Linked DNA regions of Homo sapiens. The protein of the gene in region 3 interacts with the protein of the main gene of each other region in a pairwise test. Each region holds a gene or a part of one and is shown on either strand. Other genes may lie near its edges.

Region 1 (11,223 bases), on a different chromosome or scaffold from region 3:
AATGTGTAGGGTTCCTGGGGCCAAGTGGTGGCTTTCAGTTAGAGCTCAGACAAATAGATTCTATGTAGCCTGAGGTTGGGAGAGAAGAGGCCAGGGTCCCTGAAGCAGATTAGGGGTGGGGGCCCAGCTTCTCCTGTATGATCACATTTTGTATGGAATTTTGAAAGGTCCAGGAATCTTAAATTCAAACTTGGCCTTCCATGTTGTTACGAAGGTGTATTTGTCAAGGTGGGAGGATGAAACATTTTACTCAATGGCTTGTTGGTTACAACTTTAAAATATTTAAGCATGGTACATATAGACCTTTATGGGAACTCTCTCTTCAGGCCTTGGCAAAAGTAGAGGCTGACTTGGTGGCCAGAATTTGCCCTCAAGCCAGGTATCTGTAGCTCTCCCTTGATTAGGAGACCGGCCTAATCATGGCTGTCATTTTGTACCTCACTTTGAAATGTTTCAGCCTGAAATATGAAAGAGTTAAAATGAACAAATACTTGGGAAAGGGTGACAAACTTGGAATGAATTTAGAGAATTGTTTAAAAAAATTGTCCTTTATCTTGGCACACTGTTTGCACTCAATGTATTTTAAAACATAATAATAATTCTTGATAATAATTATAATTTTCTCATTATTCAGAGGAGGGCAGCCGCTACCCTGGAGATAGCACCGCTGCTGCCAAGAGCTTTTGGAAAAATACAATGCTTTCTGATTGTTCAAGGATATTCCCACTTTTAAGGCAGGCTGAGGCCCAAATGTCTTCCCTTTCACAACTGGGCCACTTTGGAACACAGTGGCCAGAATCCCTCTTTTCTGGGGTCTGCAACTGGTGAATAATGTCTTAGCCTCCTCTCACCTGCCACGTAAGAGGGAGGCATAAAACCTTAGGATACTTGTTACTCTTTTGCTGGACTTTTTACTCTGCCAAGAGGTTTGACAGCTACCTAAAAATAGTATAGCTGAATGCCAGTGGCTAATTATACGAAGGGAAACCCTCAACTCTGAAAATCAATTCTGAGCCTGATGTTGGAATCACAGTTGCATGGATTTCTGATTTCATATTTATTTTTTCCACATCTGATCTTAGATCCTTTATAGCAGCAGGTGGGTTAAACCGTGATTGTTCAGGTAGTTTCTGATGAGTTGTGGATGTGGGAGATGAAAGCAAAGATGAGTGAGATGCTAGATTACTCTCTATCCCTCAGCTAATTGTTTCAACTTCCTCCCTGCTTAGATTTTTTTTTTTTTTTTCAAACCAGAGTTGCTTATATAACACAGAACTGAGCTGGGCTTTCTTCTTTCTTTTCCCCTCTGTTAGATATGCTAACAGATAGGAAACGGGTCTCAGGTAAGAAGAAGCAAAGAGCCTAGAGAATTCATTAACTCAATCACTCTCTAAGTAATTTACAATGATAGGCTGGTTTCCTCATCAGCAAAATGGAGATAATCATATCCATTCCATAAGGTTATTATGAAGACTAAATGAGATTATATACATGAAGTTTGGCACTACTGACAATTTGGGCTGAATAATTCTTTGTTGAGGAGGTTGTCCTGTGCATTGTGGGGGGTTTAACAGCATCCTTTACATATACCCACTAGATGCCAGTAGCATACCCCTCCCCACAAGTTGGGACAATAAAAAATGCTTCTAGACATTGCCACATATCCTGGAGCGGGGGTGCAAATTGCTCTCCCCATGAAGAATCATCACTCTAGCATAATGTCTGGCACATAGCACTAGAAATATAGTTGCTTTTATTGTTAAGAGGAAAGTGGGAATAGGTGAAGAGTTAAATAAGCTGCAATTGTAAAGTATCTAGTGAACTTGGAAATGATGACTGACATTCATGGTGGCATTCATGCTTAAACATTCATGAAGACATTCTTAATGTCATCATGTCAACATTCATGATGACATGCTTAAACATTCAGGACGATATTCATGATGGCATTCATGCTTACAAAATCTAAGCAGGGAGGAAGTTGAAACAATTAGCTGAGAGACAGAGAGTAATCTAGCATCTCACTCATTTTTGCTTTCATCTCCCACATCCACAACTCATCAGAAACTACCTGAACAATCACGGTTTAACCCACCTTCTGCTATAAAGGATCTAAGATCAGATGTGGAAAAAATAAATATGAAATCAGAAATCCATGCAACTGTGATTCCAACATCAGGCTCAGAATTGATTTTCAGAGTTGAGGGTTTCCCTTTGTATAATTAGCCACTGGCATTCAGCTATACTATTTTTAGGTAGCTGTCAAACCTCTTGGCAGAGGAAAAAGTCCAGCAAACAGTGTTAGGAGTTAAAAGTGGATAGGAGGTAAAAGAATAGAGAAGGCAGAGAAATAGAAGATTACTCTTGGCGTCAGTCTTTTAAGATTCATTACATATAACACTACTTACACATTTTAATGAGCTTTTAAATGCCTTACAAAGTATTGATTTATCTTGGTCTTTATAGTTTGTTCTGGCATCTCTTAGAGTGAGTGCATAACCTATTTAAAAAGGCAGGGGAACAGAGAGTTGTCAGGTCCCCATCAGTTATGACATTTGTCCTGCTTTGCTGATGTTCAATCCCTCAGTGCTGAATAACAGTCTTCCTGAAACATTCGTGGGGTTCCTCCTTAGCACCTCATTAAGACTTACAGAGTTTTAATTATTTGTTCTCTTTCTGTAAGAAAACAAATGAAGATGAAGACAACTACATCTGGGCTACTACTGTGTGGCAAGTATGAGTACTTTACATGCATTTTAATACTTATAGCAGCATGGAAGTTGACGTTAGTCATTCCCAGCCCTGCTTGGGGGCTCATTCCTGTAATCCCAGCACTTTGGGAGGCTGAGATGGAAGGATCACTTGAGGCCAGGAGTTTGAGATCAGCCTGGGCAACATAGTGAGACTCCATCTTTGCAAAAATAAAAGAAAAGAAAAATTAGCTGCGTGTGATGCCATGTGCCTGTATTCCCAGCTACTCGAAAGACTGAGGCAGGAAGATTGCTTGAGTCCAGGAGTTAGAGGCTGCAGTGAACTATAATTGTGCCACTGCACTCCAGCCTGGGTGACAGAGCAAGATCCTGTCTCAAAGTAAAAAAAAACCCACAAAACTGTCATTCCCGAGTTGAGATGGATTTTACTCAACCCAGAACAAAACGCTTCAGTAACAGGGTTCCATGACCACATCTTCACTCATTTCACAGATCTCTGGCTGTTGCTACATCTAATCTTTTACTCAGACGACTCCTGACCACCAGTCGCCAGAGCTTTTCTGGTCTGGGCTGTAATTCGGACTTGCTATATTGCCTGATAAAATTAATAATTATAGCTAAAATTTATAAGCATTATCATCATTCAACCTCACAACAACCTGATGAAGAAGGTAAGCACTATTATCCTATCAAGTTTTCTAGATAAAAAAGGTGAGTCACAGAGAGGTTAAATATCTTGCTGAGATCACAAACCAGTAAATGATGGAGTTGATTCAACCCAAGATTTGTCTGATTCCAGAGCTCATGTTCTTAACTATGCCACTTAACTATGCCACTTTTTGGGGTGAGGCAGACAAATGTGAAATGGGTACTAATTTTACAATCTCACTTGTTCAGAGTATGTGAACATGTCACATCATCTGACTAGGCTTGGTGAAGTAATGCAGGTGCACACTGCTCATAGAGCCAGTGGGAGTTACATTGTTATTATTATTAGAGATAGTCTTTAGCATTTCTATGCTACTTTCTTCTTGCAAATTGCTGCCTATTTTCCTGAAAAAGATTCACAAATGGATTGCAATACATAGCATATTTATGTATTTGGGCACATTTACATTGTTGGTAAATGTACAGAGAAAAACTATTGCTGGTTACTGAGTAGCTAAGATAACAGTTTTTTCCCCTCATTAAACCTGACTAGTAAAGCAGAGCATACTCACTTTCCTTCACAACCTCTAGAGACTGAGCATCCTACCATTCTAATCAGAGATAAAATGGGGAACTCAGCAAATAAATCAATCAATAAGCAAATATTAATTGATGACAAACTTCAATGCATTAGAAATTGAATCTGATATTGAGTAGAAACTGTTCGGTATTTGCTTTAATGTATATTCCATAACAAATAGCCTTCTGTATGGATGCTTTAATATTAGGCACCCATTTGGATACTGTCAGTATTTTCCTTGCTCAATACCCTTGCTCACTGCTAGCCATACAGACCCTTGAAAATATTCAACTACAAATAAATGAGTGCCGAGTAAGAATCTTTCTCACATTGTCTCTACTTCTCCTTGACTATAAGACATCCTAATGCCATGTCAAGCAGTGGTTCTTCACTCTTATCTAAGGACAGATATTTTACAGACCTTTTAGTATCAGTAAGCAAAGGCTTCACCTATAAAGTGAAATAGTCATGCACAATGAGTTTAGAATCCAAGTTTCACTTTGCTATTGCTGCATTATTATTCATGCATGTATTTTGATGGTATTCAATTAAACTAAATGCATGAACTGGAACAAATACCTAATTGCAATGACTTCTGTTGCCCCAGTAAGCTACAGCAAGTAATGGAAGTCTCACAATTAAATAACAATACCCTAAAAATCATATACCATCATCAAAGGAAACATACACAATCATCATCTCAAGTACTACATATCTCTGCTGGGAATAATTGGATTCTGACTTAGAAACAGCCTGACTTTAAATAGACCATTGAAAATAGTGCCTCTCCAAACCTTCAGCTCTGAATTGCCAGGGTGCTGAATTGAGGAGTTTAAAATAACAGACCCTTACAATTAAGTAAAATCCTTAAGAGGAATACAATCAACTTCCATACAAATCCTAGAAATAATAACAGCTTTTTGTTTTCTATCTTTTAATTCTTCCTTGATATAGCTTCTAGAGCCCACAAGGATACAATTTTGGGGGAAAAAATAAAAGAAAAAGGAATATAAAAGGTTTCTGCTGTCCAACCACTTAGAAGAAAAAGAAAACCATTTCCTCAGGGCTTTGGTTTTTAAATAAGAGTGGATATTGAGTTTTAATGCATATTTTTAGAGATCCACAGAACCCCAAGCTGATTAAATAACCTTGAGGAAAATACTATGTCCTAAATTAGAAACGAAAAGAAAAATTACTTACCCTAAAATTTTCTTCTGATTTCTGGAGACCGAGGAGTTTACCACTTCGGCTCCTGCAGCCATTTACTGACAGCAGACATACCCAAGCAAAGCAAACTTTGCCTTTCTCAGGACTCAGAAACTATGAAATGAACAGAAAGAAATCACCCATTTTTGCCTCTAAGGTGAAATTACTTGAGTGCTGCTTTTCCAGCTTCCCTATTAGACCTTAGTGCATGTTTCATAGCTGCTTTCGAATGTATCCGTTTTCTTTAGAGGATTTGGGAGGGACCCTAAACTGAGCGTTGCTTGGGTCAGCCGCTCAGAGGTTCTGTCCTTGGTGCTGAAAGAGGGATGGAGTAGGCATAGGCAGTATCCGTTTTCTACCTCGCTCTCTTTTCCTCTTTGTCTCTCTATCTGCTCGGATACTGTGCTTTTTAGTACATGTATATTTTCTCCTCAGTGCTCTTTTTAATCTTAGTTTTTCCACTGTTTTTACCTTTATGCTTTAATTTCTCTTGAATAACTCTCACCTTCCTCAGTTTAATTGCCTTTCCAGATTTTGGTGGGTGTAAAGATGATTAGTTCAGAAGGAACAGATCATCAAATTGATACCACAATTGGTTAATGGAAATCAGTACAATTTAAAACACAATTGACAGGATAATTGAACTTGGAGGTGTAAGCCTGTCTGGGAAAAGAAGGTTAAAGGAAACATATTACAAAGGTAGCAAAACTGAGGCATGGCGTATAACTGGCAATAAGGATGAAATAAGCTTAATACTGTAAGAAATGTTAAATGTTTACTTAGCAGCACTTCTTGTTTTCAGAGGACTTCATAAATATTTGCCAATTCATTCTTACTGCTTCTCTGTGATATATACATAGATACCTTTTTTAAAACTGGTTTGGAACAAGCTAAAGTGAGATGCAACCAAGGACAATATCAGTGAAAGTCAGCAGTAGAACATAAACAATCCTAACTTATGGTCACCTGTTCATCTTACATTTTACTGTGGCATCCTAACCATTTCCTGTTCTCTCTCTCTTTTTTTTCTCCTCTGTTTGGTCAGTGTGGTAATTCTTCGGCTGTTTTCTCTGCCAACAGTGGATGTGCTTGGCAACTGCGGTGCAGTTATAGGGAAGCTAGCTCTTGTTTGACTATGATGGAGACCTCTGCTGGCTGAGAAAGAAGGCAGCAGCATCAACAAGGTCTAAATACTGCTATTGATAACAACCATCATTTATTGAGCATGTACTTTTAGCCAGTCATTTTAATGCATTGCTCCTTTTAATCCTTTCAACAACCCTACAAGGCAGGTACTATTTTTTACCATCCTTAATTTATGGATAGGAAAATTAAAGCTTATGGAGGTTAGTATAATGTCTGAAAGTCACACAGCTAACAAGTGGCTGACCCAAGATTTGGATCTAAACAACCTAATTCTCTTAACCACTATGGTATAGTCTTCCAAAAGAAGAAAATTTAAACTTCCCAAAAGACTGATAATATGTCAGAGAGAATAATAATTATGACAGTAATAATAATATTAATAATACATTTGTATATAATTATATTTAGAAATCATTTAGATGATTTAGAAATCATTCTGTAAATTATATTACATCAGTCTTCATGATGCCATCTTTATAGAGGCTGTTATGGACTAAATTGTGTCATTCCAAAATTCAAGTGTTGAAGCCCTAACCTTAGAACATGACTGTATTTGGATGTAAGATCTTTGAAGTGTGAGTTAAGTTAAAATGGGGCCTGGAGGGTACGCCCTAATCCAATATGACTGGTTTCCTATAAGAAAAAGAAGAGGCACCAGAAATGTGCACACAGAGGAAAGGACACAGGAAGATGGCATCTGTCTGCAAGCCAAGGAGAGGGGTCTTGCAGGAGAAACCAAACCTGCCACCCTGTTGATTTTGGATTTCTACCCTTCAAAACTGTGCAAAAATAAATTTCTCTTGTTTAATTCACCTAGCCTGTGGAATTTTGTTATGGCATCCCTAGCAAACTAATACAGAGGGTTAGAGAGGTTAGGTTCCATATCCAAGGTTGCCCATAACTTATTGGGCATAAATGTATTAGTTATATGACATAACTATATTGAACATGCCCTAAGACTAGAACTCCTGGGTTGAATGTGAACTCCAAGGCTTTTCTTCCCTTGGATAAGGGGACCAAGAGAATATGCACTGCTAAAACTTGGCTTGTCTGACATATAAAAGCAGGGAGTAATGTCAGGCTGTTATGTGAGCAGAATGAAGCAAAGGCCTTCTAAGGAGTTAAGAACCTCATATCACTCATTTTCAGCAACATGGTTTTCACGTTTCAGTATCCTATGTTTATTTTCTTTAACATTTGAAGACATTGTGCCTAATGATAATGCTATCTTGATAATGCGTGAATGTAGTAGGAAGAACCCTATTTCTAACTTTCTGTGTTGAGAACACATATTCTCTCTTCAAGGGCAGTTGTAAATGCTGGCAAGATATTCCTCAGCATGTTTTTAGTGCCTTCCTTTGGCAAAAGTAAAAGGAAGATAAAGAGTGATATAGACTCTAATTCTGTGTAGGAACAAGAGACAGGAAAATTAACTGACATGCCTAAAATCACACATCTAGGCAGTCAACTCTGTTCTGACTTAGCTGTCTCTGGTAGACTCCTTGACCCCCGTGGTGAATGGGGAGGGATTGGTGTGGAAATAGAAGAGAAGCAGGGTAAATGAAGTGATCCTTTCTCTCTGGACTTCACTATAGGTGAAGATTAGCAATTGCTCCTTTTATCTGGCACTTCCCATTCATACAACAACAAACAATTTTATTCTTTTAAGTAAGTGGAACCCTTATTCATGATTGGCATTGAGATATGCCTTCTGGGAAGAACTCCAAGATGCCTACAGAAGAGATATGCCTGGGCAGAAATCAAGAAAAATATAGATCATTTTTTTCATCTTCCTTCCAGAAACTCCATCTCAATAGCATGGCTGGAACATTCTCATGTACTAGCCAATGGCCCTTCATCAGGGAAAGTCTTTATGTTTTCAACTTGAAGTGGCAAGTCTAGAGCAAGAGAAGAGAGATGGTGGGCTTCTGATACATATGGTTACTCAGTGATTTTGTTTGAAAGGAAATTGATGTGAAGTTTGTGGTGGGACTATTCTCTTCTTGTCTTTGAAATGCTGTTCCAGGGAATGATACAAGAAACCTTGCCTTGAGCACCGACCATTGAGTACACCACTTTAAACCCCCACTGAGTTCCCACTCACTAGGACAGTATGGAGACTAAATGAAGCATTATGGGGAGGCAATTTGCAGGACCTATATGAATAAAGGAACATTTTGTTTCCATGTCTTATTATAACTGGCATTCCTTACTGTGAACTGGAAGATTTGATTATCATGATGATCTTAAACTGCATGATACTGATCTGGTCTGAACAAGAGCCTCTCAGTATGTTTTTCACTGGAATCAGACCTCAAGTTGTAAAAGTGTAAATGAAAGTTGGCAAATGCAGTGAGTGGTCCAGTAGTATGGTTATTTCTTCTCAACCTTAGCCCCTGTTCCTCTCCAATGAGATCTGGTGATAGATGAGAACCATCTGAGAAAGTGTTAGGTTTTATGTTTGAATTCATTCTGCTGCTGTAATACAGTTCTTGAAAGAAAAATAGTTCAACTCACTTATTATTATCTAATATTGAGCACCACTTTCTTCCTTTCTACAAGAGAATGGCAGGAAATAACAGAAGGAGGCTTCTCAATCAATCAGATTTGTACCAAATCACTCATTATAGGTAGCAGAGTAATAGTAAGGAAGGAAATAAATAAATGATAGTGGTTTTTTATATCTGCATCTACCCTTCTGTGTGCTTGCATGTTACCTCCCTTTTCTACTTCTATCTTAACTTTTCGACCTATTTTCTTCCTGTTTTTTACTACCCTCCATCATCATCTAATTTTTTCTTTTTTTCTTTTTCTGTTTTTTGAGACAGAGTCTCCGTCTGTCACCCAGGCTGCAGTGCAGTGGTGCAATCTCGGCTCCCTGCAACCTCAGCCTACCAGGTTTAAGCGATTCTCTAAGTACCTCATATAAGTGGAATCCTACTATATTTGTCTTTTTCAGACTGGCTTATTTCACTTAGCATAATGTTCTCAAAATTCATTGATATTGAAGTATATGTCAGAATTTTCTTTCTTTTCAAGGCTGAATAATATTCAATTGTACCACATTTTGCTTTTCTGTTCATCTATGGATGACACTTAAATTACTTTCACATTTTAGCTATTGTGCATGACACTGCTATGAACATAGGTGTTCAGATATCTTTTTGAGATCCTGTTTTCAGCTCTTTTAGATATATATCCAGAAATGGAATTGCTGGTTCATGTGGTAATTCTGTTTCTAATTTTTTGAGGTACTACCATACTGTTTTCCACAGCAGCTGTATCATTTTACATTCCCATCAATAGTGCATGAGTGTTCCAATATCTTCACATCCTCAAGAGCATTATGCCTCCATTGTAATTTATTCTTTGATCCACTGATTCTTTAAAAGTGTGTTGTTTAATTTCTACAAATATGTGAGTTTTCCAGTTTTACTCTGTTATTGATTTCTAATTTCCTCCCATTATGATCAGGGAAGACTTTGTATGACATTTGTCTTTTAAAATCTATTGAGACACAATTTGTGGCCTAACATATGGCCCATCCTGGAAAATGTCCCATGTGTACTTGAAAAGAATGTGCATATCATTGTTGTTGGGTAGAGTGTTCTGTATATGTCTTTTAGGTCTAGTGGGTTTATTGTGTTGTTTATATCCTCTATTTTCTTACTTATTTTCTGTCTGGTGGTTCTATCTGTGATTGAAGGTGGAATGTTAAAGTTTCCAACTATTAATGTAGAATTGTATATTTTTCTCTTTAATTCTACCAGTTTTTGCTTCATGTATTTTGATCGTCTGTTATGAGGCATGTTAATGTTTAAAATTGCTCTATTTTCTTGTTGTATTAAATATTTTATTAATATATAATACCCTTTTTTATTTCATAATTTTTTGACTTAAATTCATTTTTGTCTGATATTTGTCTAGCCATTCCTGCTCTCTTTTGGTTACTATTTGCATGAATATCCTTTTCCATCTTTTCACTTTCAACCTATTGTATCTTTGTTTTCTTTTTCTCTTTTTTATTATTTTTGTGTGTGTCTTTGGATCTAAAGTTAGTTTCTTGTAGACAGTATATCCAGCAATCATGTGTTTTTTATCCATTCTGCTGATCTCTGTTTTTTGATTGGGTAGTTTAATCCATTTACATTTAAAGAAATTACTGATAAAGAAGGACTTACTTCTGTTGTTTGCTATTTGTTTTCTATATGCCTTATAGCTTTCCCACATCTCACTCTGCATGACTCTTTTTTGTGTGTGTTTAGTTGATGTTTTGTGGTGAAATGTTTAATCTCCTTTCTTATTTCCTTTTGTTTATATTCCTTAACTATTTCTTTTTGGTTGCAGTGGAGATTACATTTAACATCCTAAAGTTATAATACTCTAACTGGAGTTTATACCAGTCTAACTTCAATAACATAAAATATCTGGTCCTCTACTATTCTTTCTTCACTCTTTTTGGTTGTTAATGTCATAAAATTATACCTTTATATATTGTGTAACACCAAACATAAACTAATAATTATTTTAAATGCGTTAGTCTCTTAAATTATATAAAAAACAAAACATGGAGCCACAAACCAAAGTTACAATAATGTTAGCTTTTAGACTAATGATTGTTTTCTTTTAAATGTATTAGTCTCTTAAATTATGTAGATAGCAAAATACTACTAGCTTTTATAAAGGTCCTTGCATTTATTGAGCTCTTTGTTTCTTCATACAGCTTCAAGTTACTGTCTAATGTCCTTTCATTTCACCTTGTAGGACTCCCTTGAATATTTCTTGCAGGGAAAGTCTAGTGGTAATGTGGTAATGCTCCTCAGCTTTTGTTTATCTGGCAATGTCTTATGTTCTCCTTCTTTTCCTGCTTCAGTCCCCCAAGTAGCTGGGACTACAGGTGCATGTCACCATATCTGGCTAATTTTTTGCATT
Region 2 (10,738 bases), about 16 Mb from region 3:
CAGCCCCGTGGGTGGGCTAAGTGGACTGTTTCCGAGAAAAGCACTGGGAACATGGAGTGGCAGGCAGATATTGGCAGAGGCATAAATATAACCAGGGATGTAGATGACAATTTGATGACGTATCTTGTGAATGGTGTATATTCACAGAAGGCCTTTTAAAGATGGAGGCTGTGGGAGTAGGAAGACTTATAGGGCTTGTAGTAATGAAAGCTTTCAGTGTATGTCAAAGAACTTGCTGTTAGCGAGGACGGGAGGAGGGCCAAGGAAGAATGGCGGTTAGAGAGGGAAAGAATTAATGGTTTTGCGGCAAACATGGACTTGGCCAGGAAAACAATTCCTTATTTCTAGAAAGAAGAGGAGCTTTTAAATTTTTTAAAATTTTTCTCAGTTTATGACCTGGTTAGGAACACTGAAACATAAGGAGTTGGGGAAAGGATGGTTGGAGGCTCACTGGAAATGAGAGGCGGCTATCAGTGAATGAGCTCTTTATCAGTGACTCCCAGAGACTGCTGCTAATTTTGATTTGAAAGCTGCAAATTGCTGGTATGTGGTTACAGTTCCTAAGAACAACTTAGATAAGAGATTTTCAAAAGCCGTTTTGAAAGGGGAAGTGAAATTTAAGATTTAGTTGTCATTGGTCTACATCTAAGTGTTTGTTTCTTTAGATGTGCACACCAAGGAGCATTTAAAATAAAAATCTATTTGCAAATTAAGATAGTCTTTATTTACATTTTTATATTTTTATTTCAATAAAAAGTGTGTTTTATAGAGAAAGCTCCCAGAGAAGAAACTAATCTCAAGACTCCCTTTTGTCTTTTTTTTTTTTTTTTTCTGGTGCCAGGACAAACCGCACACATAATACCTGGGAAGAACTAATCAAACGTGTGTGTGTGTGTGTGTGTGTGTGTGTGTGTGTATGTACCTTGTGCCTTCGGTTCTGATTCCATAATAGCAAATGACCCAAGCAGCACATACTCCTCTCCAACCAGGAAGTGAGAAATGGAATTTTGGTTGACTCCTTTCTCTTGTTCTAAGAAATCTCCCAAGGACTGCACCATGTTTGTTTTCATTTCCCTGGCTCCTTTCCATTCTGGAAACTTAAAATCGGCTTCATGGCCTCTTGCTTTATAGAATTTGTTCAAAAAGGCTTCGTCAGAAATGGATTTGATGTGACATTTTTGCTCTTCACGTGAAAGTACTTCCTATTCCCTGAAAGTGGAAGAGGTGGTGGAAATAACCCTGGCCTTGGCCGACTGATCTTGAACCTGAGAATTAGAGACTGGGCCTCCGTCCAGTGACTCTGAGCCAGTAATGAAGTTTAAAGCTATCGGAAGACTGGCTGCCGTCCTTGGTAGAGGTGGGGGTGATTTGATACACAGAAGAGCTTTGTTTCCCAGGGCTTTGTGGTCTTTCCGGGTCATTTGGGGACTTAGGGTGGAGGACGCCAGTCTTGCCTTCCTAATGGAGCTGTGCTTGTCCTCGCCCGGCCTGCCCCAGAGCGCATGCTAGCACAGTCTTGCCTTCCTAATGGAGCTGTGCTTGTCCTCGCCCGGCCTGCCCCAGAGCGCATGCTAGCAGATGGCCTTTACCATCAGCCACTTCCAGCGACATTCTAGGATGAATGTGTGTATAAAGCTCATGTTTGTCACTCGTTAGCGCTTGACGCTGGGCAAGTTTTCTGGCTTCTTTAAGCCTCAACCCACATCTGTAAAATGGTGATACTTCGTAGAATTGTGAGCATTAAATAAGATTACAAATGTAGAGCACTCATTTTATTTAATGTGAAATCACCTATGGGGGAATTCGGGGCTTCCCACTGCCTTTGTTTTTCAGCACCTCCCTTCACCAGCTTTTCTGCACCCCCACTCATTTGTGAGAAATAGATAGTGCTGGAGACAGCTGAGGGATGTACTCAGCTCAGTTCAGGCTTCTCAATGCCCCAGAGTCCTCCAGATCCCCCTCATTTTTTCCCTCCATGCTCTTGTCTCTCACAAAGATCATCCTTGTGACCTCCTATCCCTTGGGCTATTCTTTGCTGCATTGGGCATTGGACAGTGCTAAGAGGGTTGGGCACCGTGCAGCCTAGTGTTTGCAGCTGCCCCGGTGCGCTCTGCTCAGTCCATATTCTTACCCTGGGTGTGCCGAGGGACAGGACAAAGGGCTTATTTTATAGAACATATTTCTTCCCCATTCTTCTCGTTTATAATTTTGGTTTCCAGGAAAGAATGGAAGAATGGGCACCTCCACCCTATTAGTGCACACTCTGTGTGTGTGTGTGTGTGTGTGTGTGTGTGTGTGTGTGTGTAGCAGGAGCAAGGGGCAGGGTCAGCTGTGCTGAGGACTAGGAGGTAAATGGTCTACGCATATCCAAGGTGGGAAGACCAAGAGAAATAAGAGAAGTAAATGAACAGATCCTCTAAAGTCATCTTTTCCTTATTCCAGCACACCAAGGCATTGTGCATATGGTCTTGGATCCTTATTCTCTGTTAGCCAATGGAAAACATATATGGAAAGAAAGCAAGCAAGCTTGCTGAGATTAACCTAGAGAGGGCAGGGGCCAGCATCCTGATGTCTATGCTAGGCCAGCATGGTACCAGCAGCAGAATGTGGGCTGTGGACATACACTTAACATTTCTGATCAGTTTTTACTCCCTCAGGCTTAGGGGCTACAAAGGAAGATAGCCAGGTTTCTGGGAAATTTCGAAGCACTTGGAAATATGATCGAAGCAGAAAATTCCTCTGAGTGGAGGAGCTGTGTAGGCTGTGTATAGAATCTGTGGATTGGGACCATCCAAGGAATCAGTGTCTGGAAAGAAGCACAAACTGGTGTGATGAAGGTTCCCATGATGGGTAAGAACTACCAGGGAAGGTTGGAGAAGAAAGGTTTAAAACTGACAAGGAACCTCCAAGCCACCTTAGGGACAATTTGGGTTCTTTAAAGTTCCATTTGAATCCCACTCCCTCAACGAGCACTCTAACTTGCCCCTGTTTATCCACCCCATCTGCCATGACCACATCAAACTTACCCACAAGCGAGGCCCTTCTTAGAACACTATTTGAGTTGTATATTAAAATGTTAGGGTGCCTGGTGGTCTAGACTCTTTCCAGCGGGTCTTGTTCTCTGAACCTCTAGAGGAGGGAACTTTGCCTTCAGAATATTGCTGAGAGGAAGGGTCCAGAATGGCCTGGCCAGTATCTAGTGTGACCACTCTGCCTCTGAGCTATATTTGGCTGAGTCAGGTGGCTGGTGAGTCCCACACGTCCTCTGGATTGAATCCACCCACAGGGGAGAGGAGTCAGCCTGTAGGTTTAATTGCCACCACAATCAGAGCTATCAACTGCCTTTATTGTCTAGGAAGATTGAATCAAAGGAGGGCAGAGAACCTTGGGTTCCCAACGCATTCTATGAGCTCTTGGGTTCTTCCTGTGGCTTTGTAGGAACAAAAGAACAGAACAAACATGTTGGAGTAGTGTCCCTAACATTTATTTCAGGTGGTGACTAGGAGGGTTGAGGTGTAGATATACTTCCTCTCTTCTCGTGGAGCCTTACTGAAGACAGGATCGCCGTTCTTGTGTTTATCAGCTGAGAAGGGCAGTCTCGCCATCTTAAAGACCTGCCCTCCAGCCCCTTCAAACGCCACACTTCCCAGGAAGCACTCTCTCCATAAGTGTTCAGAGAACCCTGACCAGAGAAGCTCCCGCACTTCTTATATGAACTCCGATTGTGCTGAGGGGGAGGGGAGGAGTACACAAAGCAGGAGGTGGGTGGGGAGGCTGGGGTCACACAGCCCAGGAGGGGCACACCCGGCGAGGTGCTCCGTCAGCACAGGCTCCCTCCTCCCTCCCTCCCCCCAGTACACCAGGCTCTGACCGGACCGGTCCCACCGCAGAGTTCAGCGGCATCAAGTCCAAGGACAGAACTGCAAGAGTATGGACACAAAACACCAAACAAATTGGGGGTGGGCTCCCGGCCAGCCTGGTGAGAGAGAGGCTCCTTTAGCCAAGGCCATTTCTGGCTTGTCAGCCTCCAGGGTATGGGCTATGAGCAGCAGTGGGGAGCCGGGGTTTCTGGGGCAGCTCAGTGCTGGGAAGACGTCATCCCCTTCTCCCCAGGGCTGTATGGGAGCACAGGCACAGGGGTAGGTAGAGCTTCTGGTCAGCGAGGGGTAGAGCCCACAGAGAGACCAGAGAGTGGACCGCAGTTTCATGAAAGCAGAGTTATAGCTGCCACTTGTGCCTGTGGGCAGAGCAGGTGGTAGAGGGGCCTCCAGGAAAGGGCCGGGGACACGGGTGTCCAGCACTAAGCACAGCGCACTCAGCCGCAGCCTCTGTCTGTCTCCCCACCCGCCCACCTCTGGCACACAGCACCTGGGGACCCAGATTTGTGCTTGATCAGAGCTTCGAAGGAAGGCAGTGGCAGAGGCGCTGGGAGGCTGTCCTGGAAGTGGCCAATTCTGGTGTCCTCTGCAAAGTACCCCTCGTCCCTGGACAACCAGAACGTGCCCTGACCTCTTCCCTGGCCCGTCCCCACCCGCGGTGTGTGATCCTTAGACGTGAGTCTGCATCCGCCGCTGCAGGGGTCGACTGGGGTCAGAGTTCTGGGACGAGGACTGGGAGTGGTGGGAGGAGGAAGCAGAAGCCTTGCTGGCCTTGTCGAACTGCACATAGCCATCCTGCTTGCCGCTGCTGCTGACGCTGCTGTCACACTGCGTGTCCAGGAAGGAGCTGCTGTCGCTGAGGGAGCCTCTCTGGAACTCCCGCTCACAAAGCTCGATGGACGAGCTGCCCATGCCCAGCACAAACCGCTGCCCGTAGTCGTAGAGGCGGCCCTGGCCGCTCAGGGTGCTGTAGATGTTGGTGAAGGACATGCCTGTGGGCACACGCTGCTTGCCCGCAGGACGCAGGTCGGGCTGGCAGCTGGAGAGGGAGATGGTCGGGGTTGAGTGGTGCTCTTTGAAGGTGTTGACGCTGTAGTAGCCATTGGTGGGGTCCTGGATGGGCGAGAGGAAGAGGAGCGTCACCTGGTGGAGTCTCCACTGAGCGTGGCTGGGGTTTCCAGGCTGAGCCCGTCCCCTTATGCGGGGAGGGAAGAGGGAAAACAGGAGGAAGGGAGCAACCTGGTAGGGAGCAAACTCAGGGGTGAACAGCTGCAGGGAAGGTGCAGGGGAAGAAGGACACTGAACAGGAGATGGCAGAAGGGGGACTGCGGACCCCAGGAGGGGAGGGACGGCAAGGGTGAGGGCTGAGGGCCGAAGGAGGGAAGCAGAGGCTCTTGACTGGGTTTATGTCAGGGCAATGCAGGGTCATTTGAAAGTCAGGCTTTTTAATTGTTTTTATCCAGAACATGGATGCTTCATTTTGAATCTACATGTGAGGAGGCTGTGGAAGAGAACTGGGGAGTCTCAGCCTTAGCTCTCTCAGCCTCCTCAGCGTTGGGGTAGGGAGAGGAGGTGCCTTAGGCAGGGACGGGCACCTGCCACCAAGCTGGCCTCTGACCTTTTCTTCTCTGACTTGCTGTCATTTGTTGTATAGATTTGGGGTTTGGGCCATCAGAGCTAAAGACCAGATTCCATGGCTGTGTCTTATAACCCGGGGCCCTTCTTACCTTCAGGTTCTGAAACTCTTTCTCCTCTTCTTTGAGGACCTCCAGCTGTTTCAGGACTGAGTCTTGCTGGAATTCACCCCGGTCCATCTGCAACCCAAAAAAGGCTGCTCAGTAGATAGGAGGTGGCTAAACCTCCACTTCCCCCAAGGAAAAGATGAGATCAGAAACTCAAAAGATTGCCCTGTATAACCCCCACCACCCCTCACTGCCTGGACCATGTGAAAGAGTCAAGATGAGTTCCTGGAGCCCCATCCTAGGAGACAGGGAAGCAGTTGAGGGGGGTGGGTGAGTAGGTGAGGTGAGGGGCAGTTAGGGGAGGCGAGGGGCAGGTATCCGAGGCCATACTTTCCTCGCTTGGGCGAGGGCATCACCAGAGATCTCCCATGGCTGATTCAATTCCATTGACTGAACGTTTATTGTAAAATGCCGGCCAGTTGCTCTGCTAAGGACCAGAGATCCACAGATTAACGTACATTAAGATACAGCTCTGCTCATCAGGGAGATGGACTTGTAGATAAATAATTTCAGAATGTCAGTCACTGGGCATGGCAAGGCTCCTTAGGGCAGTTTCTTTTCCAGCGTGCAGGCCTAGTGCAGGCCTTAGGGAGTCACAAGGAATAACCATCTGTGAGATGCTGGCGACATGGGCCACACCTGTTATTCTCATGAAAAGTTAACTTCCTTAGAGATGCCAAACAGCCTGAGGGCAAGGATCACTTCCTGCTTGTCTCTGGGTCCTCCCACACCTGGTTCAGTGCTTTGCATGTTGTGGTCACTGACCTTGCCTGCTTTTGGGATGGAATCTCTTAATTATTTGATTTGCCAATGCCTAGCACAGTGCCTGATATACAATAGAGCTGCTTCAAATGGTATGTATATGTTGAATGAATAGGCAAAGTGGCTTAGCTCTAAATTACTGAAAATTAACAAAATTATTAGACATAAGATGAAAAAGCATACTCCACACACAGTGGGCATATGAATTAATCTGAATAACCACAGTGATGCTTAACCTGTGACACACGAGAGGCTTGCCATGTGTCTCTGCTAGTTGCACGGTATAGGTAGTAGGTTCCCTCCTACTCTCTGGGCCGGGATGTTTCTTCTCCCTTGCAACCTGCTTTCCTCGTTTCTTTTTGGAGCCCTGTAGAATCAGCCAAAGTGCGGCCACCCGGCTGCCTCCTCACTAAGGAGACCATGCGGTTCATTTTTCCAGTAAATGCTCTGGCACTGTCTGGACTGGAGACCTTCTTTCCCATCAGATTCAACTTCTAAGTCTGCCCCTTCTTGCAGATGGGGCTGTCTTGGGGCCAGGAGGTGAAGGGAATGCGAGAATGACGATATCCTCAAGGGGTGGCTTAGCCCAGAGCCCTCAGCAAGTCCCTTCTGCTCCCACCTGACACTGAGCTGCCCCCACTCTTGCCTGTGGATTTGGACTAAGGGATGTGGAGACAGTCTGAGGCAAACAGAATGTTTGCCGATGGGAGAGAATTCAAGGTCCCGTTTGGGATGAAGGACACACATGATTAAGCTTAAGTATAGAGACGTCATCCCTTCTCACATCTAGGCTGTGGTTTCCTCCCTCGTAAAACTAAACACTCCACTGTGTTAATTTTAACAGTGTCAGGCCCTGTGTTAGGCCCCAGGGGAAATAGATGAGCGTAGACTCAGAAACATGACCTTTGCCCTTGAGGAGCTCTGGGATAACTGGGGAAGCTGACATGGAATTGGGGGAATGCACTATAAAGGAGGCACATACAAAGTGTTTTGGGAGAGCAGAAGGTGCACAGCTCCGCCAGGGGTGGGGAGGACAAGCCCGGAACATCTTGGAGTTGATTGTTATGGGAGAATGTGAGATTCAACAGACAAAATTAGCAGGCAGAGAGAACAGCCGGTGCACAGGCCTTTGAAGTCCAAAAGATTCGAAGGCCAGGAATCAAGCTCTTTGGCATGTCTGGAAGGCCAGATGTACTTGGCCGGAAAATGGAGCTGGAGAGGTTGGTGGTTGCCTGGCACTGAGGAGCCCTGATGGCACACCAGGAAGTTGGGCTTTGTCCAGCAGATGTGGGGAGCCACCGAGGGATTTTAAGTGGGCAAGTAACAGGACCAGATTTGCATTTTAGAAAGGCTGCTTTCTCAAGGCTCTCGAGGGTGGATTGAGAAAAGAGACAAAAGACTACAAGGCTGAGACCAACTGGGAGGCTGCTGTAATCATCCAGGGGAGCAATGATGAGGCCTGAAGTAAAGAAGTGATGGTGGAGGACAGGTGGGGCACACATTTGAGACACTTTTTGAAGTGGAATTGACAGGACCTGAAAATCAATTGGAGAGAGAAAGCGTAGCCGAGGGAAAAGTCAGTTTGATTCAGTAAACGTCTGTGAGCCTCTACCAGGGCCTGTGTAAGGCTCCGAAGACCCCGGGATGAACACAGCAGCAGCTGCTCACCCTCTAGCAACATAAACCGCTAATATTTCTTGAGCACTTATTGTGTTCCATGGGCTTCAAGCCCTTCTGAGTTTTGTCCACTTCACCCTCACCACAGCCCTGTATACTGTGGCTTTCAGACCCATCTCATGGATGAGGACATGGAGGCACCAGAAAGCCCATCTACTATATTCCTTGCTCTGCTGCCTCCACTCCAACATGTTACGACCGAGGCAACCAGAAACTTCTAGCATGGTTGTCCAGGTTTCTGCTTGGACAACTAGGTAGATGATGGCCCATAAATGGGGATTCGGAAGAGGAGGAGCAGGCTTGATGTGCCTGGAGAAGTGATGAGTTGACTGGCAATCCAGTCCCCAAGGAGGAACCTGTGTTTCTTGCAGACTGTTTTGGTGGGGTGCGGGGGATGAGGGAGAGGGACATGTATTGAATATCTATAATAGCTATGTGTGTGTGTGCGGGGGAGGGGAGGGGATTATATGTTATATAACAACATATTGTGGCAATTTATGCATATGTCTTTTCTCCTTACTGAAGAGCCAGGCTCTCTGAAGGGTAGACTGCATTTTTGTTGTTGTTGTTGTTTTGAGATGGAGTCTCGCTCTCACCCAGGCTGGGGTGCAGTGGCCTGATCTCAGCTCACTGCAACCTCCACCTCCTGGGTTCAAGCAATTCTCCTGCCTCAGCTTCCCAAGTAGCTGGGATTACAGGCGCCCGCCACCACGCCCAGCTAATTTTTGTATTTTTAGTAGAGATGTAGTTTCACCATGTTGGCCAGGCTGGTCTCGAACTCCTAATCTCAAGTGATCCGCCCAACTCGGTCTCCCAAAGTGTTGGGATTGCAAGCGTGAGCCACTGCACCTGGCCTGGACTGCATCTTAGATGTCTTTGAGTCTGCCAGAACACAAGCACAGTACAGCAGGCACACACTCACATTTGTTGGCTGAGAGTGTGTGCCTCACCTATTGTGGGGTGGGCAGGGGGCATCTTGAACGCTGCTCTGCTTTTTGGAAGCATCTAGTTCATTGAGAAGCCTCTAGTCCCAGGACCTTCTGGGAATGGAGTCACGGGATGGGATGGGGCGTAATTGCATTCTTACCATCAGCTGCTTGATGGTGGAGTGCTCCTCACCCTCCCGACCAGAGGCTGGTTCCTTGTGGACAATTTCCACTCGGATATCATTTTTGGCTGACACAACACCTTTGAGATCTGGAGATAAAATAGTAAAGTGTAGATGATAGATTTAGTTCTTACCTTTGAGATGTCAAGCTCCCTTGCAGTCCCCTGCCCCTGCCCTGCCACCCTCTGCATTTCCCCTCCAGCCCCTGAACTCAGCAGCTTCACCAGCCCCCCACCAATAGAACCTCCATATGGAGATGCTGTGGGTGTTTGGGCCTCAGAGGAGGCTGACCCCATGGCCGGCCTGCCTCCTGTCACATGCCCCTCAGCCATGCACCCTTGGCTTGAAAGATCGTCTTCAGCCACTTGTCCGCCTTACTGAGCTAGGTCCTTTTCATCCTACTGAATTCTCACTTCCTTCTAGAAGTCTTCTCTGACCTGCTCTACCAGGCGGGCTCCAATCCCTCCATTCATAGAACCATAAATCTCAGTGTTGGAAAGGACCTCAAAGTGCCCATGGCCAACCCCCATCCAAAGAGAAACGCCCCTGAGGCAGTGGGCAGCTTCTCTGTCGACGCCTCCGTGATGGAAGCTTTACTGCTACTTCTGCAGGAGGCAGGCTGTTTCTAGTTGGAGAGCTCTGTTAGAAAATTCTTGGCTGGGTGCGGTGGCTCACGCCTGTAATCCCAGCACTTTGGGAGGCCGAGGTGGGCAGATCACGAGGTCAGGAGTTTGACACCAGCCTGGCCAACATGGTGAAACCCCGTCTCTATTAAAAATCCAAAAATTAGCTGGGCGTGGTGGTGGGTGCCTGTAATGCCAGCTACTCGGGAGGCTGAGCATGAGACTCGCTTGAATGAACCCGGGAGGCAGCGGCTGCGGTAAGCCGAGATTGTGCCACTGCACTCCAGCCTGGGCAACAGGATGAGACTCTGTCTCAAAAAAAAAAAAGGAAATTCTTGAGGAGCTGGTGCGGTGGCTCACGCCTGTAATCCCAGCACATTGGGAGGCCGAGGAAGGCGGACCACTTGAGGCCAGGAGTTCGAGACCAGCCTGGGCAACATGGTGAAATCCTGTCTCTGCAAAAAATTAAAAAAATAGCAAGGCATGATGGCACACGCCTGTAATCCCAGCGACTCAGGAGGCTTAGGCACGAGAATCGCTTGAACCTGGGAGGCGGAGGTTGCAGTGAGCTGAGATCGTGTCACTGCACTTCAGCCTGGCCAAAAGAGAGAGACCCTATATAAAAAAAAACCGTATATATATGTGTATATATGCGTATGTGTATATATTTGTATGCTTCCCTATAATTTCCACTGAGACGGTGGTGATGGAGGTCCTGAGACCACATCATTGCTGGGGTGGTCTTGAGAGCCAAGGCTGCTTAGCTCGGAGTGCAGAAAATGCAAGGGGAACAGCTTTCTTCAAACATGTGCAGGCTGCCGAGTGGCAGAGGAGCAGACCCATTCTGGTGATTCATTTTTTGCATTACACTTATATAATGTTAGTGCCAGATGGGGCCATCAGAGTCATATCCTCATTATAAATGAGGAGACAGGCCTGGAATAACTG
Region 3 (10,738 bases):
GGTAAGCCTGGAAGCTAATACAATAACTTTTTTAACATTTAAAAAAATTGCTCCAATATGTGCCAGAACCACCACCACCAAAAAAATTAAGAAGCCAGGCACAGTGGCTCACGCCTGTAATCTCAGCACTGGAGAAAGCAGAGGCGCAAGAATTGCTAGAGGCCAGGAGTTCAAGACCAGCCTGGGCAACATAGCAAGATCCCATTCTCTAAAACAAAAGAAAAAGATTCAGTTTACAAAAATTAGTCTTGAAGTCATTTTTGCTTTTCAAAAATTTCTCTTCTAAATGATATAACCTTCTAACTTGCTTTGTAATAAAAACATGAGAAGATATTAGGGTAAAAATAGTAAAATGCTCTTGTTTGGAATCACATATGCTTTGAAATTAGTATTTTATTAGATATCTGTAGTAATAAAAATTAAAATTCTGGAGCCAACCTAGAATAAAGAATAATGCCTTAGGAAAAGGCATTAATTACTGGCATAGACTTGCATGCTTATGTGGTATGGTAAATAAATTAAAGTCTAAGACAATTGAGTTATTAATCCTGAAAAGTAAGAGTCTGATGTATTTTATATTGCATGTGTATGTGTATAATATACCGTCTCTATATAGTATTTACCCATGTATTTGTATAGTACATATACATGTATATGTAAATATACATATATTATACATATAATAAAATATTGATGAATTATATATGTATAATAAAAAACTATTTGGTCAATTTCAAGATATAATTACAGTGTTCAATATGTGTAATACAGGGATATTCTATTGTATTAATGTCCAAACATATTTAAAACAATTCCTATATATAAATGTTCAAAAAAATCCTCTAAGATGTGATAGACATATTTATTAAATCCATTCTCTCATTGCTCCTGATTTCTTATGTATGTTCAATTTCAATCTATTTGTCAAGCATAATAGCATTTTAAAGAATTATTTCTCACCTATCGAGGGAGCAAATTTTAATTAAGTTACTAGACATAACTCACAAGAGCTAAAAGCAGCACAATTCAAATAAAAGTCAATCATCTCATTTGATAAATACACTGAAAAGTAGAACTCTGAAACTGCAAGGTGATAAGAAAATGGAGGTAAAATATCTACAAGTCTATGTGTCATTAATTCATCTTTTAGTTTGAAAATAGTAAGGGTAATCAAGACAAGAAACTACTTTGAAAAACAGGACATAAGATTAACGTCATTTAGACCACTGAACAATGACTAGTTCACTATGCAACTAATTTACTTACTTGTCGTCATGCTCATAAATATTCAGACCCAAAGCATCAACACCTAGCCACAATTCAGTTCCTTTTTTATTTTTTATTTCAAAATAGTTGACTCCATACATTTCTAGATCTTGTGCAATCTTCAGGTATTCCATCATAGAATCCTCCCTGTTGAAATAAAACTAAATGTAATATATTTAAGTAGGAGCATATCAAACTAAAGTTGCAAAATACCTGGAATTAAAAATTAGTACTTTACATAAGTCAAACAATCTTTTGGAAATAATGTAATAATAAATGTTACGACATGAAAATACTTTGAAGGAAAAAAGAAAACATAGAAAATAGCTACCCAAATACCTTAACATTCCTCTATGTTCTTCATGCCAGTTCTGTATTCTTTCTTCCCACTGTTCTTTTGTTAGTTTGTGTTGTTCCAATACACTAAGAGGACCAAAAAAAAAAAAAAATTATAATGACTTTAAGATTCAAAAGCATACACTTTAAAAGTAAAGAATCCTTTCAGTAACTTGACTGTGGTAGTTGTCAGACAATTAATACACATGATGAAATTGCATAGAACTAAATTACATACACACAGAAATGAGTGCAGGTAAAACTGATGTAATCTGAATAAGGTGGCTAGATTGTACCAATGTCAATATCTTGTTTGTAATATTGTACTGTAGTTACACAAGATGTTACCATCAGGGAATGCTGGGAGAAGGATACCAGGGATCTCTTTTTTTTACAACTGCATAATAATCAGTAATTATCTCAAAGTTAAGTGTCTAGGATCCTTAAATTCCTTGAAATAATACTTGCTCCATAAAGTGATTACAAAGATAGCTTATAGGAACCCAAACAGTTCAAAGGAATAAAACATTAGATAAAAAAATGGCTCATTGTTAATAGATAAAGACCAGACTGAAAACCAGAATTCTTGGGCCCTAATTCTTCCTTTATGTATTTACTTTTTTGCTACTAATTTTGTTGTTTTAGGTAGGTAATACTTTCAATTAAAAAGTAGAGTGAAAAGTCATACTCCAGTCCAATACCCCCCAAATAACTTGTTTTTGTATCCTTCCAGTGTTCTTAATTCAAATGTGAGCAAATACATTCTTTTTTTTTTTTTTTTTTTTTTGAGATGGAGTCTCGCTCTGTTGCCCAGGCTGGAGTGCAGTGGCACAATCTCGGTTCACTGCAACCTCTGCTTCCTGGGTTCAAGTGATTCTCCTGTCTCAACCTCCCAAGTAGCTGGGATTATAGGTGTGTGCCACGATGCTCTCGGCCTCCCGCGTAGCTGGGATTACAGGCGTGCGCCATAATGCCTGGCTAATTTTTCTTTTTTGTGTGTTTTTTTGGTATTTTTAGTAGAGACGGGGTTTCGCCATGTTGGCCAGGTTGGTCTTGAACTCCTGACCTCAAGTGATCCACCTGCCTCGACCTCCCAAAGTGCTGGGATTACAGGCGTGAGCTACCACGCCCAGCCAAATACAAACATTATATTCTACTACTACTATTTTAACACCAAATCAGCAAAGTCAACATGATTATAAGTTACCTACTATGCACACTACAGTTTGTGACTTCTATTCTCTTTGGCTCATATGATAATTATTCACCTTTATTTACCAGATCCTACTTTACTGACAGCAGAAGCTGTGGTGTTAAAATATTACTGTTTTACTATATAAAAAATCTTGCATGAAACCCAAGGATTTCTTGGCAGCATAAAGGAATGATAAAATCTCCCCCTGGATAAGTTACCTACTACTTAGAGTAAATTCCTTAAAGGGGTCTCAGACATACTGTTATGTTCTTATTATACTCTGCTCCTTTCTCTAGGCATCTTTTCCAAGCTCTTGCTTTTGGGGAGAAGAGTTTCATCTTCCTTCTGAGAGAGCTTAGGTTTCCACAGTTTCTTGTCTTTCTTGCTGTCTGGCCTCTGGGCTCACAGAGAGGCATGCAATCAGCCTTGGAGACATAACCCAGTGCAGTCAATTGCTTACCATAATTATATGCCCAATGCCAGTACTAAAGAGGGCCTCGAAAATTTGTAGAGTGAATAAATGAATTAATCAATTTTTCCCAACCCCTATTTTTTTTTCTTTTTCAGAGACAACTTTCTTTTATGGACTGTCCATTATACACTAACCTCAATTTCCATACCTGACATCCACTGCCCCCAGTCTACCATAATCTGGCTCAAACACCCAATACTCTATGGTAACTGTTCTTCTTTTTTTTTTTTTCTTTAGACAGAGTTTCGCTCTTGTTGCCTAGGCTGGAGTGCAATGGCATGATCTCGGCTCACTGCAAACTCCACCTCCCGGGTTCAAGCGATTCTCCTGCCTGAGCCTCTCCAGTAGCTAGGATTACAGGCATGCACCACCACGCCCGGCTAATTTTGTATTTTTAGTAGAGACGGGGTTTCTCCATGTTGGTCAGCCTGGTCTTGAACTCCCAGCCTCAGGTGATCCGCCCACCTCGGCCTCCCAAAGTGCTGGGATTACAGGTGTGAGCCACCACACCCGGCTGGAAACTGCTCTTCTAAGGTCACTACCAAGCTCCTTATTCCAACAGATACTTTAGTTCTCCTCATATTTGACCTCTTGGTACCATTTGGCAGTGCTGACCATTCTCTTCATCAAAGTATTCTTTTACCTTGGCTTCCATGATATAATACTCTTCTGGTATTATTCTTGTTTTCTGAGATGGAGTCTCGCTCTGTCGCCCAGGCTGGAGTGCAGTGGCGCCATCTTGGCTCACTGCAACCTCCGCCTCCCGGGTTCCAGTGATTCTCAGGTCTCAGATTCCCGAGTAGCTGGGATTACAAGCATGTGCCACCATGCCCAGCCATCTTCTAGTATAGAATTATTCTTGAATCTGTGGCCAGTGTCTCAGTACAGTTGTCCCTCCATATCCATAAAGGATTGCTTCCAGGACTCCCCTTGGATACCAAAAACTGTGGATGCTCAAGTCCCTGATATAAAATGGTGCAATATTTGCATATAACCTATGCACATCCTCTTGTATACTTTCAATCATCTCTAGGCTAATAATACTAATACACTATATTATTACTACTATGTAGTATAATAATACACTAATACACTACAAATGCTATGTATTGTTATCCTGTATTTTTAAAATTTTGTACCTTTTCATTGCTGTGTTATTTTTTTCACATATTTTCAATCTGTGGTTGGTTGACTCTGTGAATGCAGAACCCAAAGACAAAAGCTGAGGTCCAACAAGATCTGTCCTAGGTCTTTTTCTCATTTTTATGTACTTGGTAGGTTGATCTCTTTCATTCTCATGGTTTAATTACCATCTATTCACTGATTACTCCCAAAACTGTATCTATAGTCCAAGACTGTTTCTAAAAGGTCTGCACCCACATATGCAAATAAATACCAGATATCTCTCTTGGTTATATTGCACATATTTCAAACTCAATAGGTTCAAAACTGAATTCATCTTCCCCCTCAAATGTATTTTTTCTTCCACTCATTTTGATAAAAGGTATTACCAAATACCCAGCCGCCCAAGTCAGAAACCTGGTATGTAAAAGTTTATGTATATTTAGCTCTTTTCAAAGGGAAGCAATACTATCTGGTGGAGCTAATTATCTATACCACAAGAGCTAAACTTTTCTACAGTAAGAACAGATTGCTCATCTGGGTTTTTCAATACAAGAAATCAGAATGTATCAGAATCACTAAATTATTTTATTTGATTTGTTATCACCAAATAACCTAATTACTCATTTCCTCCCCAGACTGTACTTAGATACTGAGAAAAAGTGTCCGATATACCATACTGGAATAAGCCAATCACTGTGAAAATATCCTCTCTGTTCTAAACAGAAAATGAAAAAAAAATGGTATTCTAACTTTATGACTAAGTCTCATTTTAAGATAACATGGCTTGAATTAGTCCTCCATGGAATATCAACTCTGAAGGAACAACTGACCTACAAAATTAAGGAACAAATCTTGAAATAGGCATTTGCACTAGCAACCACAAGCAACCCTATCTAAAGCATTTAGCCACCTTCCTTCTTTTTAAATAGAGTAGGTTAGAGCACACCCATATTTAAAATAAACTGTGCTTGTGTGTTATTGTAGTGTTTAAGAGATTTTTTTCAATCACATGAGTTATGAAATGTAAGCCAATTACTTCATCTGCTGCTCAACCAAACAGCAATCTGGCTTAACACTGAAAGATCAATGCTGTACTTGTTTAGATAAAGCATTCCTATTCTTTAACATTTAAAAAAAAAATTAAAGTAATTCTGATTATAAAACAAAAGGTAATCCTTATATGAAATGAAATTCCACCATAATAGTCTGATTACTCAATTCAGTAATCTAAGATGAAGAATCTTAGGTTAGAATAACATTCAAAACCAGAATATAAACAGACTATCAGATATCTCATATTCCTGACTCTCTTGGTGAACAACTTACATAATTCTATCCTTTTCCAAGGTGACTACTATTGCTACAAAATTAAAGGGCGGAACACTGTGACATTTAATAATTGAATTTTGGCTGAGCATGGTGACTCACGCCTATAATCCCAGCACTTTGGGAGGCCGAAGCGGGTGGATCATTTGAGATCAGGAGTTCGAGACCAGCCTGACCAACACGGTGAAACTCCATCTCCACTAAAAATGCAAAAATTAGCCAGGTGTGGTTGTGTGTGCCTGTAATCCCAGCTGCTCAGGAGGAGACTGAGGCAGGAGAATCGCTTGAATCCGGGAGGCGGAGGTTGCAGTGAGCCGAGATCGTGCCACTGCACTCCAGCCTGGGCAACAGAGCAAGACTCCATCTCAAAGAAAAAAAAAAAAAATTAAAAAGTAATATTTGATGTTCCATCTTCTAGATTCCATCAATACTACTAAATAACACGTTTCACACTTGACAATTAAAACTGTAAATCATATAGTTCATTAATTATAATCATAAACTAGAAGGTAGCCAGAGAAGGATTATTATCCCCACTTTGCAGATTTAGATACTGAGCTCAGAGGTTTTAGGTCATGTACCTAAGGTCACATATATAGCAAAGGGTGGAATCGGTACTCAAAATTTAGGTCTTCTGATAATTTTTTCCTATGCCATATTATTTTAAAATAGCCATTATAGAAGCAGCAGTACACTGTAGATAAGAACAATGCACCAGCCTAGGAGTCTGAAAACCTAGTTTAAAAAGCCTTTTCAGAAAGTCAGAAAATTCAGCCAGGAGCAGTGGCTCACGCCTGTAATCCCAGCACTTTGGGAGACCGAGGTGGGAGGATCACTTGAGGTCAGGAGTTCGAGACCAGCCTGGCCAACATAGTGATACCCTGTCTCTGCTAAAAATACAAAAATTAGCTGGGCATGGCGGCAGATGCCTGTAATCCCAGCTACTCGGGAGGCTGAGGCAGGAGAATCACTTGAACCTGAGAGGCAGACTCCAATCTCAGCGAGCTGAGATTGCACCACTGCACTCCAGCCTGGGTGACAGAGTGAGGCTCTATCTCGGGGGGGGAAAAAGTCAGAGAATTCTATGAAGAAAACACAGCCTGCCACTTACTCTCACTTATTAAGCACCTGCCTGTGTTAGAATTTGTACCAAGCAGCAACAGTCACATCCTTTCCTCAAGTCCAAATTATCACTGCCTCCATTTATTGCTTACCCTATGGGAATGAGGAAAGAAGAGATAGATCAACCTTAGGTAATTACAGAGCATATAAATCTATGGAGGTGCTAGGTAATGATTTTTAGAAGTATACCCCATGATCCAGCTGGCAACTTAAAATCTGGAAAAAAAAAAAAAAGAGGCCAGGTGCGGTGGCTCATGCCTGTAATCCCAGCACTTTGGGAGGCTGAGGCGGGCAGATCACTTGAGCTCAGGAGTTTGAGACCAGCCTGGGCAACATGATGAAACCCCATCTCAATGAAAAATACATTAAAAAAAAAATTAGCGGACATAATGGCATGTGCCTATAGACCCAGCTACTCAGGAGGCTGAGGTGGAAGGATGGCTTGAACCCAGGAGGCAGAGGTTGCAGTGGGCTGAGATCACGCCACTGCACTCCAGCATGGGTGACAGGTCCAGACCCTGTCTCCAAAAAAAAAAAAAAACCTGAAAAACGTTTTATTTATAGACTTCTAGAATACAATTTTCAGACAATATAATGCAAACGCATGTTTCACTTACCGCTGGGGTAGGAGTCTATCATTAGCCAGGTAGCCTGGCTTATGAATCTCTTTATTGTAATCTCCATACTTGGCTTGGACAGCATAGGAAGCCAAAAGAACTGCAGTTTCTGGCGGGCAATATATCTCATCATTTAAGATGGCTTCTTTAACTTGCAAGAAGAAGAGTCTCTGGGTTATTTCTTGAATTAATTCCTCAGAAACATCTTCAGGAAAGAATTTAGCTCTAAACTTGAACTGTAAAGGATTCTCTTTTTTAACATCCTGCTGTGTTACCTGGAAAAATAATTTCAAGTATAATCAACAAAAATCTTAAGTTTACAATAATTAGACCTAGTCACATCAAATTCTTTTTGGAAGAAAATGAAGTGAAATAGATTCTAAATCTATGAAGATTTTAGTGTGTAATAGTCTAAATCTGTAAACAAATATATGTGGTAAAAGATTCTATGCTCTTGAATGTGACCTATAACTCAGATTCTAATAACCAAATTGAAAACTTTTTTTCATATTCTTGAGAAGCTTATCCTACAGGTATTTACATCAAAATTGAAGTACTTAGTATGCCATTTGTAATATCTGCTTTAATATTTGTTATAGGCTAAGTTTTCAAATAGGAAAAGTAAGCATTTCTTTTTTTTTTTTTTGAGATGATAAGCTGATGGTGCCTGATTGAATTTAAAAAAACATGGTACCTCATAATGATTAACAGATAACTACAAAAGGAAGCTTGCAATCAGTCAGACTTAGCTTTTCCAGCACAAATTCATAACTTCAACTTAACATAATTATTAGTTTAATGTTATCGTACATATTTTACCTTTTTATTTAGTTTAAGCCATGTAGAATAACCTTTGCTGTCTACATACTGCAGCCCAAAAAACCAGACCTCACGCAAACCAACTGTTTTCACCACCTAAAACACAACAACAACAAAAAAACACAATTTCAGTCCAACATACACATTGTGTCTAGATGATACTACACTTCAAAAGGAGAACAAAACTATGTAAGTATACGTATATTCCTTTGCCATAGAAAAGGCTTTCCCTAAATTTAAGATATTAAAGGAACATTTTTGAAAACTCAAATTCAAGTTTTCTATACTCAATTTTTCTTTTTTTTTTTTTGAAAAGAAGTTTTTTTTTTTGTTTTTTTTTTTTTTGTTCTTGTCACCCAGGCTGGGGTGCAATGGCACAATCTTGGCTCACCGCAACTTCCGTCTCCATTCAAGTGATTCTCCTGCCTCAGCCTCCAAAGTAGCTGTGATTACAGGTATGCACTACCACGCCTAGCTAATTTTTTGTATTTTTAGTAGAGATGGGGTTTCACCATGTTGGCCAGGTTGGTCTCAAACTCCTGACCTCAGGTGATCTGCCTGCCTCGGCCTTCCAAAGTCTTGGGATTATAGGCGTAAGCCACTGCACCTGGCCTCTAATCCTCAATTTTGTAGTGTCACTTCAATCCTCTTACTTGATCCACTTTTTCATACCTCCTTTTCCTTATCTATCATGACCTCAACAATAACAAGAGTCTTGAAAATATATATATATATATATATAGTTTTCATAATCATACGTTCCAATTTCTATTTACCCCCACAAGTACCCTATTGGTATATTTAGGGCAAATGGTATCATTTTGGTGATAAGAAAAGTCTGATATATTCCATGTTCTACCTTCACTGAGCAAGAAACCATTCTTAGAACATACCATAAATTCCACCCTTCTACAATTTTGCTGATGTTTTTTCCTCTGCCTAGAATGGGTCTTCTGTATTTTTATGACTTATTGAACAATTTATTCTTTAAGGACAAGCTCAACTAACGTGCCTTCTGTGAATAAAGCTCTCCTACCATCTAGATAAAATTAATCACTTGTTCCCTGATATTCCCATAGGACTTTATCTATCCTGCTATTAGAAAATTTACTCTATCATAATTGTGTTATTAGCAGTGTGTCTATTTACCCTCCTTGACTGCATAATACTTATGGACAGAGATTATTGATTTATGTGTCTTAAAATCCATAGCATCTCACAGAATGATCAGCCTGTGGTAGATACTCAAAAGTAAGACTAAGTAGGCTGTGCGCAGTGGCTCACGTCTGTAATCCCAGCACTTTGGGAGGCCGAGGCGGGCGGATCACAAAGTCAGGAGATCAAGACCATCCTGACTAACACGGTGAAACTTCATCACTACTAAAAATACAAAAAAAAAAAAAAATTAGCTGGGCGTGGTGGCATGCGCCTGTAGTCCCAGCCACTTGGGAGGCAGAAGCAGGAGAATGGCGTGAACCCGGGAAGCGGAGCTTGCAGTGAGCCGAGATCGTGCCACTGCACTCCAGCCTGGGCGACAGAGCAAGACTCCGTCTCAAAAAAAAAAAGAAAATAAAGTAAGAGTAAATAAAGTGGTGGAGTTAGGATACACACCCAGGACTTACCCACACCTAACAAAAGCATATGTTTTTTAAAAAAATCTGTATTTAAAATAAAATGAGGAAAATGATCCAGGGGAGGTAAAAGTTCATTAACATTTTAAAAGCTTTACAGAAAGATTCAATATCAGTTCTTAAATAATAAACATTCTTGGTTTTTTGTGGGAGTTTTTGCTTATTTTTTTTTTTTAAAGACAGGGTCTCACTCTGTACCCACAATGGAGTACAGTGGTGTGATTCACGGCTCACTGGAGCCTTGACCTCCTGGGCTGAAGCAATCCTCCTGCCTCAGCCTCCTGAATGGCTGGGACTAGAGGCACATTCCACCACACCTAGTTAATGTTTTTTTTTGTTTTGTTTTGTTTTGTTTTCTGTAGAGGCAGGGGTCTTGCTATGTCGCCAAGGCTAATCTTAAACTCCTGGCCTCAAGTGATCCTCCCACTTCAGCCTCTCAAAATGCTGGGATTATAGATGCAAGCCACTGCGCTTGGCCCTTGGTTTGTTTGTTTGTTTGTTTGTTTTGAGACGGGGTCTCACTCTGTCACCCAGGCTGGAGTGCAGTGGTGCAATCTCAGTTCACTGCAACCTCCACCCCCACCCCAGGCTCAAGTGATCCTCCCACCTCAGCCTCCCGAGTAGCTCGGACCACAGGCATGCACCACCAAACCTAGCTAATTTTTTATATTTTTAGTAGAGATAGGGTCTCACTATGTTGCCCAGGCTGGTCTTGACCTCCTGAGCTCAAGGGATCTGCCCACCTCAGCCTCCCAAAGTGTTGGGATTATAGGCATGAGCCATCGTGCCCAGCCTGTTTTTTAAAAAATAATGTTAAAACATTTGGCAG

What was found.
Region 1: the proteins of RDX (region 3) and DRD3 interact in a two-hybrid assay, tested with the Homo sapiens proteins (one study listed by BioGRID).
Region 2: the proteins of RDX (region 3) and KIRREL3 interact in binary tests that used the Homo sapiens proteins (3 or more experiments, as listed by UniProt).

What each region holds. Positions count from the first base shown.
Region 1 is NC_000003.12:114,173,518-114,184,740, forward strand, and holds the start of DRD3 (D(3) dopamine receptor), read right to left. Parts: upstream 5,536-11,223; 5' UTR 5,140-5,535; intron 2,677-5,139; exon of another isoform or gene 2,409-2,676; intron 1-2,408. UniProt on the Homo sapiens protein: Dopamine receptor whose activity is mediated by G proteins which inhibit adenylyl cyclase. Promotes cell proliferation.
Region 2 is NC_000011.10:126,420,033-126,430,770, forward strand, and holds the end of KIRREL3 (kin of IRRE-like protein 3 isoform 1 precursor), read right to left. Parts: intron 9,257-10,738; coding exon 9,147-9,256; intron 5,693-9,146; coding exon 5,606-5,692; intron 4,992-5,605; coding exon 4,548-4,991; 3' UTR 3,326-4,547; downstream 1-3,325. UniProt on the Homo sapiens protein: Synaptic adhesion molecule required for the formation of target-specific synapses. Required for formation of target-specific synapses at hippocampal mossy fiber synapses.
Region 3 is NC_000011.10:110,256,501-110,267,238, forward strand, and holds part of RDX (radixin), read right to left. Parts: intron 8,375-10,738; coding exon 8,279-8,374; intron 7,735-8,278; coding exon 7,460-7,734; intron 1,690-7,459; coding exon 1,606-1,689; intron 1,414-1,605; coding exon 1,267-1,413; intron 1-1,266. UniProt on the Homo sapiens protein: Probably plays a crucial role in the binding of the barbed end of actin filaments to the plasma membrane.